Linked DNA regions of Homo sapiens: region 1 is linked to region 2. Evidence: fine-mapped expression QTL. Tissue or cell type: whole blood. Region 2 holds a variant in brackets; the other region holds the start of a gene. All regions are shown on one strand. Distances are from middle to middle.

Region 1 (5,149 bases), 220 kb before region 2:
TGGCGTGATCTCGGCTCACTGCAACCTCCACCTCCCGGGTTCAAGCGATTCTCCTGCCTCAGCCTCCCGAGTAGGTGGGATTACAGGCATGCACCACCACACTTCGCTAATTTTGTATTTTTAGTAGAGATGGGGTTTCTCCATCTTGGTCTGGCTGGTCTTGAACTTCCGACCTCAGGTGATCCGCCTGCCTTGGCCTCTCAAAGTGCTGGGTTTACAGGTGTGAGCCACTGCGCCCGGCCGAGGCTCTTACTCTTATCAATAAGCTCGCAGGGTTCACTCTATTTCTCTCATTTGAACTTCCGTAACAAGTACACACTTGAGCGAATATACCATATACTTCCTTAAATAGATTCAATTACCCCATCTCCTATATTTGGCTATTCTGAGTGCTCTCTGACAGTAGGATTCTTGATTTACTCCTCCACCATCACACATCTGTACTGGACACTACAGGTAATGGAGATCATTAATGTGTACTGTCTTACTTGGTTCTTCCCAAAACCCTGTGATCTAGGTGCCAGAGATTCCAAAATTCCAAATGAAGAAAGGTTAAGTGACTTGCCAATCTTCATACTGTTAGCAAGTAGCAGAAATACTTCAAAGCTGAAATCTTATGATCCCCACATCCGGGTTCTTTCAATAACACAATGGTGCCATATACACTATTCCATAATAATAGTATTCTATACTGCCTTAGCAGAATGCCCATACTTAATGTTTGCTGATGATGATCCAAGTGCAAGGAAGAGCAAGAGCAGTTAGTGGGGCAGGTAAGCACAGGCTATGAGGTGCTTACCTAGCAAGAGGGAAGGATTTGTGTACACAAATGACCATCAATTCCCCATACTCTCACATGTCTTGAAGCAATTTACCATCCCAACCTCCAGAATATGTTTCTGTATCTTAAGGTTTGAGTGTGAGGCCAGGTGCATGGTGACTTATGCCTGTAATCCCAGCACTTTGGGGAGCCAAGGTGGGAGGATCTCTTGAGGCCCAGGAATTTGAGACCAGCCAGGGCAACACAGTAAGACCCTGACTCTACAGAAAAGTTAAAAGCAAAAAAATTAGTCAGGCATAGTGGTGCACATTTGCAGTCCCAGCTACTCAGGAAGCTGGGGTGGGAAGATCACCTAAGCTTAAGAGTTCAAGGCCGCAGTGAGCTAAGATCCATTCTGGGCAATGGAGCGTGACCCCTCTCACAAGAGAAGAGTGTGAGAACCATGTCTTTCAAAACCAATGACACTCAAAAAGACAAGTAAAAAGACCTGGATCTTAACCCCTCAACATAATCATGTTTTCATTTCTTAAGCACCTACCATGTGTTATGCACAGGGAAGTCTGAAAGCTGTTTTCAATTATATTCAAAAATTCTGCTTACTATATTAAAGACACCATGCTTAACAATTCTCATCAAACCAGCCCAGGGCCCTACAATGAGAGAACTGGAAGGGAATTTAGAGTTAAGTCCCTCATTTTAAGGCTAAATCTCTCACTTTGCAGATGAGAAAACAGATATAGAGAGAGCAAGCATATTTCAAGGTCACAAAGCTAATTAGAGGCAAAATCAACACCAGGACGTTGTTCTCCGTGCAACTGTTTCTTCCAAGATGCTGTGCAAAGAGCAAGAAAGGCCAACCCAGGGACAGTTTTCCTTTTTTTCTTTTCTTTTAAACCCTTGTTGCTAGGACTGCAGTTAAAAAAAATTTTTTTGGATGAGCAGAGGGAGGAAAGGGGCAAGCGTGAGCGGGCAGCAGTGCACTTGGTAGCAAAGAGGGAGGTGGAGGGAAGAGAGGAGAGGGCGGGGAAAAACAACAGGAAAAAAAGAAAAATCTTAAAGGCTTCTTGTCAGCCCAGTAGAACAGTCAATACTCAAATATTTTCAGTATTCGCCTATCATGATAAAACGCCTAAAAACTTCAGTAAGCAAAAGGACAAGAAGCACTTTGGAATCTGTAGCAGCACGCAAGGGTGATGGTGGTAGAGAGTTTGGGGGATACTGATTCTTTAATCTTTGGGCTTCGGTTTTCCGTGTCTGTGAAATGGGCACTGACAACAGTGCACCCAGCCCCCCAGGAGAAAAGAGATGGACACGATTAAATATAGGAAAAATCAAATTACCGAAAAAGGTGTGGCGACCAGGACCAGAACACTTGCGAGAAAAGAAGAAGTTCTAAAGAGGACCGGGTCCAGGTTTGAAGTGTGATGAGGGCAAGGGCAGGCTCCAAGCGTGCGTAGGGTTGTGATAGTGGTCACACAAGGGCTCCCCTCAAAAGGCCGTAGAAAATAAGGGAGACCGGGATGGGAAGGTTGGCTCGCCGCCTCCCAGGCCTCCCCAGGATTCAACTGTTCCCAAGAACCGGCTCCTCACCTTATCCAACAAGCCGCTACGGCCACTTCCTGTCCCGCAGTTGGAAGCACCACCAGCCCCACTACAGCCTCCGCTACCACCGCTTCTCCCGCCCTGTACAGCTGCCGCCGCCATCTTGTCCGCCTCTGCGTCTCCCTCCCCTCCGACTTGTCTGAAGCCGATTGGCTGGAGCTGACAGCGTGACGCGCCGCGCGGAGTCAATCGGGATCCGTAGTTTGGGTCTTGCTGGCGCGAGGTAGTCAGAGGACGTGGCCGCGGGGCTTGCTGGGACTTGAGGTTAGACGTCCCGGCCGTCGGTTGCCGCCTACACTGTCTGCCGTCGCGTCGCAGTTACTAAGGCGTGGGGAAGATAGCGGCAGGCACCGCAGTGGAGCGGCTCCGAGATCCCCGGGGGGCTCGCAGGCGCGCATCCCTCCTGACTGGGACGTCGCCTCCGCAGACCCCTCGGAGGCTGAAGCGACGCCGGAGGCAGGTGCGACTGAAACTTAGTTTTCGAATTCGAGTCTTTCTCCGGCCCAGGTGTGGAGTTTCCAAAGGAGTGGGCAGGAGCTTGTCCTTCATCCTTTTCTAGCCCGGTTGTGGCACTTACCGATTATTCTCTCAAGCAGCTGTCATTTTAGCTGTTTGTAATGTTTTCGTGTTAACGGAGAACTCGCGTTTACTGAGTGCCTACAGTCTGCCAGGCAGTATCCTATGTGCACTTCCAGCCATCCTCTCTCTCACTGAGTCCCACAACAGCCCTGTTAGATGAGGAGGAAACTAAAGAACCTACCCAAAGCCAGATAGCATGTATCTGAACTCGGTTTTCAAGCCGGCATTTAAAAAAAATCAAAACCAATATATATCCCTTCTGACACTCTGCTTTTACGGTTTTAGGATGTAATAGTATTCTAGATTTTAATTATTTTTTTCACAAATGTATATTGAGCACCAATATTGTACTAACGGATACAGGGGATCAAGATAGACCTGGTTGCTACTCTGGTGGACTACTACTCCATGACAGAGTTATCAAATAGCAGTATTGTATTATACCATGCTCTATTACGTTGTATTTTAATTAATTTTTTTCACAAATGTATATTGAGCACCAATATTGTACTAACGGATACAGGGGATCAAGATAGACCTGGTTGCTACTCTGGTGGAACTACTACTCCATGACAGAGTTATCAAATAGCAGTATTGTATTATACCATGCTCTATTACGTTGTATTGTTTTTTAATTCCTATATATCCCCCATAAGCGTCTAAAGAATTAAACAAATATTTTTGAGTTTCTTACTATGTAACAGGCACTATTCTAGTCACCAGGGATATATCCCTGAATAAAACAGACAAAAACTTGTCTTGGGGAAGCCAAAATTCATGTGAAAATAATTATCTCGGCCGGGCGTGGGGGCTCATGGTTGTAATCCCCGCCAAGGCAGGCGGATCACCTGAGGTCAGGAGTTAAAGACCAGCCTGGCCAACATGGTGAAACCCCGTCTCTACTAAAAATACAAAAATGAGCCGGGCGTGGTAGCGGGCACCTGTAATCCCAGCTACTTGGGAGGCTGAGGCAGGAGAATTGCTTGAACCGGGGAGGCGGAGGTTGCAGTGAGCCGAGATCAGAAAGAAAAGAAAATAATTATCACTAAATAACTAAATTATTACTAAAAAGAAAATAAATATCACTAAATAGCAATAACATCAGATGATATTTCATTACCTCTGTGAAGCAATCCGTGGACACTAGTCAGATCCCCTGTAGCTTGTTGTTGCAGTTTATCTTTTACAACTTCTCATTTTTCTTTTATTTAAAATAAAGTGAGATGATACAGCATTGCCCTAGTCACTTTTTATTTTATTTTTTATTTTTTGAGACAGAGTCTCACTCTGTCACCCAGGCTGGAGTGCAGTGGTGGGATCTTGGCTCACTGCAACCTCTGCCTCCTGGGTTCAAGCAGTTCTTGTGCCTCAGCCTCCCAAGCTGTAGTCTTTGTAGCTGGGACTACAGGCACATGCCACCACACCTGGCTAATTTTTATATTTTTAGTAGAGACAGGATTTCGCCGTGTTGGACAGCCTAGTCTTGAACTCATGACCTCAAGTGATCCGTCTGCTTCGGCCTCCCAAAGTGCTGGGATTACAGGCATGAACCACCACACCAGGCCAACTTCTCATCTTTCAAGATCCAGCTTTAATGTCACCTACCCTGTGAAACTATTTCTGATACTTGCTTCTTCTTTCTTCACCCACTGCATGAAGTGCTCCTGTGGCATTTTGTTCATGGGTTGGGTTAGTTCAATTAACAATCATTGAGACTCTTCCTTCAGTAGGCCAGGTCCTGTGTGAGATGCAGGATAAAGAGATAAGTACAGGCTCACGCCTGTAATCCCAGCACTTTGGGAGGCCGAGGCGGGCGGATCACGAGGTCAGGAGATCAAGACCATCATGGCTAACATGTTGAAACCCCGTCTCTACTAAAAATACAAAAAATTACCCAGGCATGGTGGCGGGCGCCTGTAGTCCCAGCTTCTAGGGAGGCTGAGGCAGGAGAATGGCGTGAGCCCGGGAGGCGGAGCTTGCAGTGAGCTGAGATAGCGACACTGCACTCCAGCCTGGGTGACAGAGCAAGACTCCGTCTCAAAAAAAAAAAAAAAGAAAAAGAGGTAAGTAGGACCCAGGCCTGACCTGACCTTGGAGATACTCACAGCCTGTAGTGAGGTGGGGAACAAACAAGGAAGCAGGCATTATAATACAGTGTGGTATAGTGCCTGTATTAGTCCATTTTCA
Region 2 (5,149 bases):
GGTTGGGGGAGGACTTACTGTTCCTAGGAGGGAGTCGGGTATGTCTGGCTACAGGTAAGGAGTGTGATGGAGAAGAAAAGGCTTTTTGCCTTTGGAAAGAGCCATTGGACAGAAATGAGAGGTAATTAGGATAACCTTCCCATTCTTTTCTCTCTTTTGATCCTCGCAACTCTCCAGTGAGGTGGGTATTATCATTCGCACTTTACAGATGAGAAAACTTAGGCTGAGCAAGGAGGAACTTGCTAAAACTTACAGAGCGGGTAAGCCATCCAAAGCCAGAACTCTAGTTCCAGATCCCATGCTTTATTCCCTGCCTCACATTGTCTAGAAGGAACCCTGAATTTGCAGTGTGAGACTCTGGGAGGCGGCAGGGCACAGTGAGATAGACCAGCGTCTTCACCATCCCAGCCCCGCTGAATGCCAGCTGCTGGGAGGCCGTCACAGAGTGCACCTCTCTGACCCTGGGTTTCCTAATCTATAAAGCGGAAGTAAAAATCCTAGGAGAGTTGATAGGATTAAATTAGAGAAAAGAGGTAAAGCAGCTAGCACAAGACTGGTGCTTGATAGCTTCCAAAAAAAATCAGTTCCCAATTATGCTTTTCCACATAGATACAGTGTAACATCAAACAGGTTACATCATCAATCTGAGCCTCAGTTTCCTCACTGCGCCCACAATAGGCTGGTGGTCCCCCCTCCCCATGCCCAGCCAATCTCTTAGAATGCTGTGAGGATGGAAAACCAAACCACATTCTCTTAATCAGAAGAAAGGAGCTTCATTCAAGCAGTGGGTTTCTCCAGGACATACATGGCACAGCCTGGGATTAAGACCCTGCGTTCCCAACTCCTAGTCTGGTGCTCTTTCCTCTCCCCAGCTCAGCTCCTCCATCTATGCCTTTCTTTTGCACGTGACATTCTGGAGCTGGTAGTGCTGGACTTTGTTACGGTCTTGTTTCTGCTCATGAGAGCAGGCTGAGTGTCTCTGGCCTGCCAGCAGCATGAGACTCACATAAGTCTTTCCATTACATAGAACAAGTAATGGAATTAGCTCAGTGTTGTATTCAAATCCTGGCCGTGCCCCTTAGAGCTGTGTGACTTTTTGTAAGTCATAACTTCTCTGAGCCTCAATTTCCTAATCTGTCTAAGAGAGATACTAATCCAGAACTTGCAGGGTTCTTGGGAGGATTAAAGGAGGTAACGGATTAAAGTGCCCAGCACAATGCTGTGTACTTAATAAATGTCTCTTCCGCTTTCTTGAACCCTGAGGGTTTCCTCCTAACACCTGCCTCCTATTTCTTAAAAGAGACTTTGCACAGGATGCCCTCCATGCCTGCCTCCCATCCACTTGACACCTTGTTCTTAGTCCCTGCAATTTTTTCTCCAGATATCATTGCCCTTGATGCATCTTGGAAAGATGTCCTAGAACCAGACTGTTATCCTACCCACACCCTGCTTCTTTGCTTCCCATATCTTGTCAGCCTTTCATGGCCTTGCCTAGGTCACACCTCTTCAAGCAAACTCTCCCCGGTGACTTGATCCACTCTGATCTCCCTCGTCTGTGCCTCCCTGGCCTTCAGCTCTGTACCTCTCAGCAGGTCCTGCCAGTATTCCATCTTCCCTACAGCCTTGTAAATACAGATCTCCAGACATGTGAGAAAAAGACTTGGAGCCAACTCATTAGGGTGAGGTGGACTGGCACTCATTGGAGAATGTTAAGATTCCTGGATGTTAGAGCTGGTGAAACTATCAAAAACCATCTGCTTCTACCCATCAATATACCTATACTTAGAGTTAAATTGAAGCCCAGAAGAGAAGAGTGACTTGCCCAAGGTCACACAGCAAATTTATTAAAGAAAAGAACAAAAGCCAGGCACAGTGGTACACACCTGTAGTTCCAGTCACCAGCTACTTGGGAGGCTGAGAGGGAGAGGAACCCTTGAGCTCAGGAGTTCAAGGCTAGCCTGGGGAACATGGTGAGACCTCATCTCTTAAAAAACAACAACAACAACAACAA[CAAA/A]AAACAGAACAGACCTGGGTCCTGGACCCTGATTTGTCACTTATTGGCTGTGTGAGTTGGGACAGACCACTTCTTTATCTGAGCCTCATTTTGTTTGGTGCTGACAGCCTATGAATCTAGAAAGGATCCTATAGTCATTTGCCAAGATGCTATTTGAAGGTCTCTTACAAAGGTCCTCATCTTAGTTTAAGTGAGATCTCAAGCCTGTTGTGGGTCAGAAATCTGGTGATATCTTAGGTGCTTTCAGAAACAGTGCTAACGGATGGAAATGTTCAAGTCTGTGTGGTATCAGGCTCCTGAGGTGTCGGAGCCCTGAAGAATGCCAAGGGCCTGTGAACACAGGTAACAGTTTGCTCCTCAGGCTATTCAAACAAAAAGTATTCTCTCTTTGGTTCTATTTCCAGCCATAGATTGAGCCCTAATCCCAATACAGACTAAGTTGCAATTCCAGCCACAAGCCAAGCCCTAGTCCTCCAACCTTGGCCACAGGTTGAACACCAATTCCACCCCTATACAAGACCCCTTACCCAGGCTGGGTCCCTGACCTGGTTACTGACCAGTACTGGTCCCAGCCCCAGGCTGAGCCACAGACATGTGTGATGCTGGTCACTCTAGACACTCGGCTCTTTGTGGATGAGTGTCCACCAGAGGCCTACTATCTTCTTACCTCCCTCTTCAGTGCTTTCTGCCCTACTCCTCTCAGCTCCTCTCTTTGGTTCTCTTCCCTAATTGTCCCTTGTAGGTGTCTAGTATGCTCTGCTTTCTCTTCCCTCCCTCCATCCAATCCTGCTTTCAGGAGAGTCAGTTACCAAGTAAAAACATGGGGCTGGGTGCAGTGGCTCACGCCTGTAATCTCAGCACTTTGAAAGGCCGAGGTGGATGGATTACTTGAGCCCAGGAGTTTGAGACCAGCCTGAGAAACATAGCAAGACCCTGTCTCTAGAAAAAATAAAGAAATTAGCCTGGCATGGTGGCACATATCTGTGGTCCCAGCTATTCGGCAGGCTGAGGTGGAAGGATTGCTTGAGCCCAGAAGATGGGGGCTGCAGTGAGCTGTGATTGCACCACTGCACTCCAACCTGGGTATCACAGTGAGACCCTGCTGAGAAAAAAACAATCCATGTATTTTTTTTCTTCAAGGGTTTTGTTTATTATGGGAATCGAAGCTTTCGTTCCCAGGTGATGAATTCCGGACCCTAGACGCAGGCATGGGACAGGAAGGGAGCTCCGCTGGTAGGATGTGATGTGGAGGGCAAACCTGGAATCAGAAAGTCATGGATCCAGCCCTGGCTGTGCCATCAATTCCAACTGTGACCCTGGACAGGTTGCCTTTCTCTACCTCTCAGTTTTCTCCCCTGTAAAGTGAGATGGTTGGACTCAAGTGGATGATTATTGAGGACCATTCTAGTTTTAACACTTCGTAATTCTAAGTCTCCAAAACCCAAAGGTGTGGTTGCCTTGATTCCGAGTCCACTCTGGCCTTTGGAATAGGGATGTGGGAGGGTGGTACTCCTGCCCTGCCAGGGAGGAGTGGACAGGCAGACCCTCAGACACCAGAAAAAAGTGCCTGGATGGCCTGGGGCAGTGAAGGTAGTGGGAGACCGGCCAGAGGGGACCTGCTTGTCTGTCCAGCTTAGTCGCATCCCCATCTACCTGTGCAGGTGTGCATGAGGCAGTGGGGAGCACCTAAGTGAAGGCCTGAAGTCCGGCTCCAGGCTGACTTCTCTCTGGATCTCTGACTGGGCCGTTCTGCACCTCTCCTCTCCCACCAGCAGAGGTCTCTGCCTCACTCACTGGCGCACAGGCTGCTGAGCCTGAGCCCGGCAACAGCTGCGCAGTTGCTCCAGCTGTTGCACCTGTTCCAGGACTGGCCTCTCAAGTTCCCCCAGCCGCCAACCATGGCGCCGGACTCTGGGAGAGGGACCTTGAATCCTTCATATTCTCAAAGAAAAGGACTGGCATGACAGCGGTGCCCCTGGGAGGTGTAGTACAGAGATCATTTCAGGCGTCCCCCTTCCTCTGTCCAGGACCCCATCCTCATTCTTGTACTCAGGAGTTCTTTTTTGTGTCTCGCCAGAAGCCTTCTGTTTACAAATTAAGGCCATTTCTTCTAGTCCTGCCTAGTAGGGGATGGGTGTCCCTGTAAGCATTCTCTCCACATCTGACGACTGGCATTGAAGATTGTGCTGGAGTGAATCAAGCTTAGTCAAGTCCTGATCTCTCTCTGGGACTCAATTTCCCACAAAGGAAACAGGGGACTGGATGTCTCTGAGTCCCTAGCTTTCTACGATTCTATGAATCTAAGCATATATGTCCAAGGCAGAAAAAAATGTGAACAGTCCCCACCCTGTTTCCTGCCCTTTAACAGGTAACAGAGCTGCCTTTCCTGGTTTGATAGTTCTCTCCCTAGAGGCCCTTCTATGTTCCTGTATGTCTGTCATGTGCCAGAGGGAAAAGTCAGGTTCAGAGAAATGCAGTTCCTTTCTCCGGGTTGCACAGCTCAGCCACTGAGGAGCTGAGGCTTTTCTTCTGATTTCCTTAAGAGGCCTCTCCCACCGGGTGCCAGAGCCCAGAGCAGAGCTTATGTCTCAGAGGGGAGCAAGTTTGTTTGTGTGAAGAGGGGATTATAAATAAATAGAGAAAGTATGGCTGTGTGGGTGTGAGGGAAGAGATGTAAACGTTCTACATTCCTGGGCAGCCTGGCTCACTCAGGTTTCCTGAGTTCTTGCAGCCTGGGGACAGGCCAGCCACAATTCCAGACCTCTCTCCTCTCACCCCGGCCCCTCCTGATGCCCTTTCCAAGGTCTTGACCAGCCTCCCCTCCAGCCCAGAAGCTTCTTTCTAGTTGTCTTTTCTGCTTCCTATTGGGGAAGAATTCTCAACCGCACTAACCCCTTCTAACTGACCACCATAAAAAAACCTTTTATCACAGCATGAGAGTTTCAAGCCAGACTGTGGGATGAGCTTGGAACTTGGATAGAGACAGTTTGGAAATTTTGACTTATGCGTGAAGATCATGGAATCACTCATCCCCTTAGCTACTCTGGGCTCCTGACCTTTTTGTACATGTTGTCATTTGGTTTGGCCAGTGGTTTGAGCATTCAGATGGCAGGGAGCTGGAAAGTGGGGGTTGTC

Evidence for each region. PIP is the estimated chance that this variant, and not a neighbour inherited with it, causes the effect.
Region 1: SPCS2 starts here. The variant in region 2 is fine-mapped to the expression of SPCS2 in whole blood (INTERVAL, PIP above 0.99).

The regions. Positions count from the first base shown.
Region 1 is chr11:74,946,622-74,951,770 of GRCh38, reverse strand. It overlaps SPCS2 (signal peptidase complex subunit 2), which reads right to left and starts at 2,505. Exons shown (of 5, transcript NM_014752.3): 1 at 2,372-2,505. The coding sequence starts at 2,485. XRRA1 (X-ray radiation resistance associated 1) reads left to right here and starts at 2,680. Exons shown (of 19, transcript NM_001378157.1): 1 at 2,680-2,843. RefSeq lists enhancers at 2,251-2,300, 1,603-2,457, 2,381-2,600, 2,731-2,790, 2,911-2,960 and 1 more.
Region 2 is chr11:74,725,394-74,730,542 of GRCh38, reverse strand. The region is part of intron 1 of CHRDL2 (chordin like 2); the gene reads left to right. Among named protein-coding and RNA genes, the nearest start is that of CHRDL2, 3.5 kb to the left of the region's middle. The variant CAAA/A (reference allele first, on the strand shown) is at 2,012.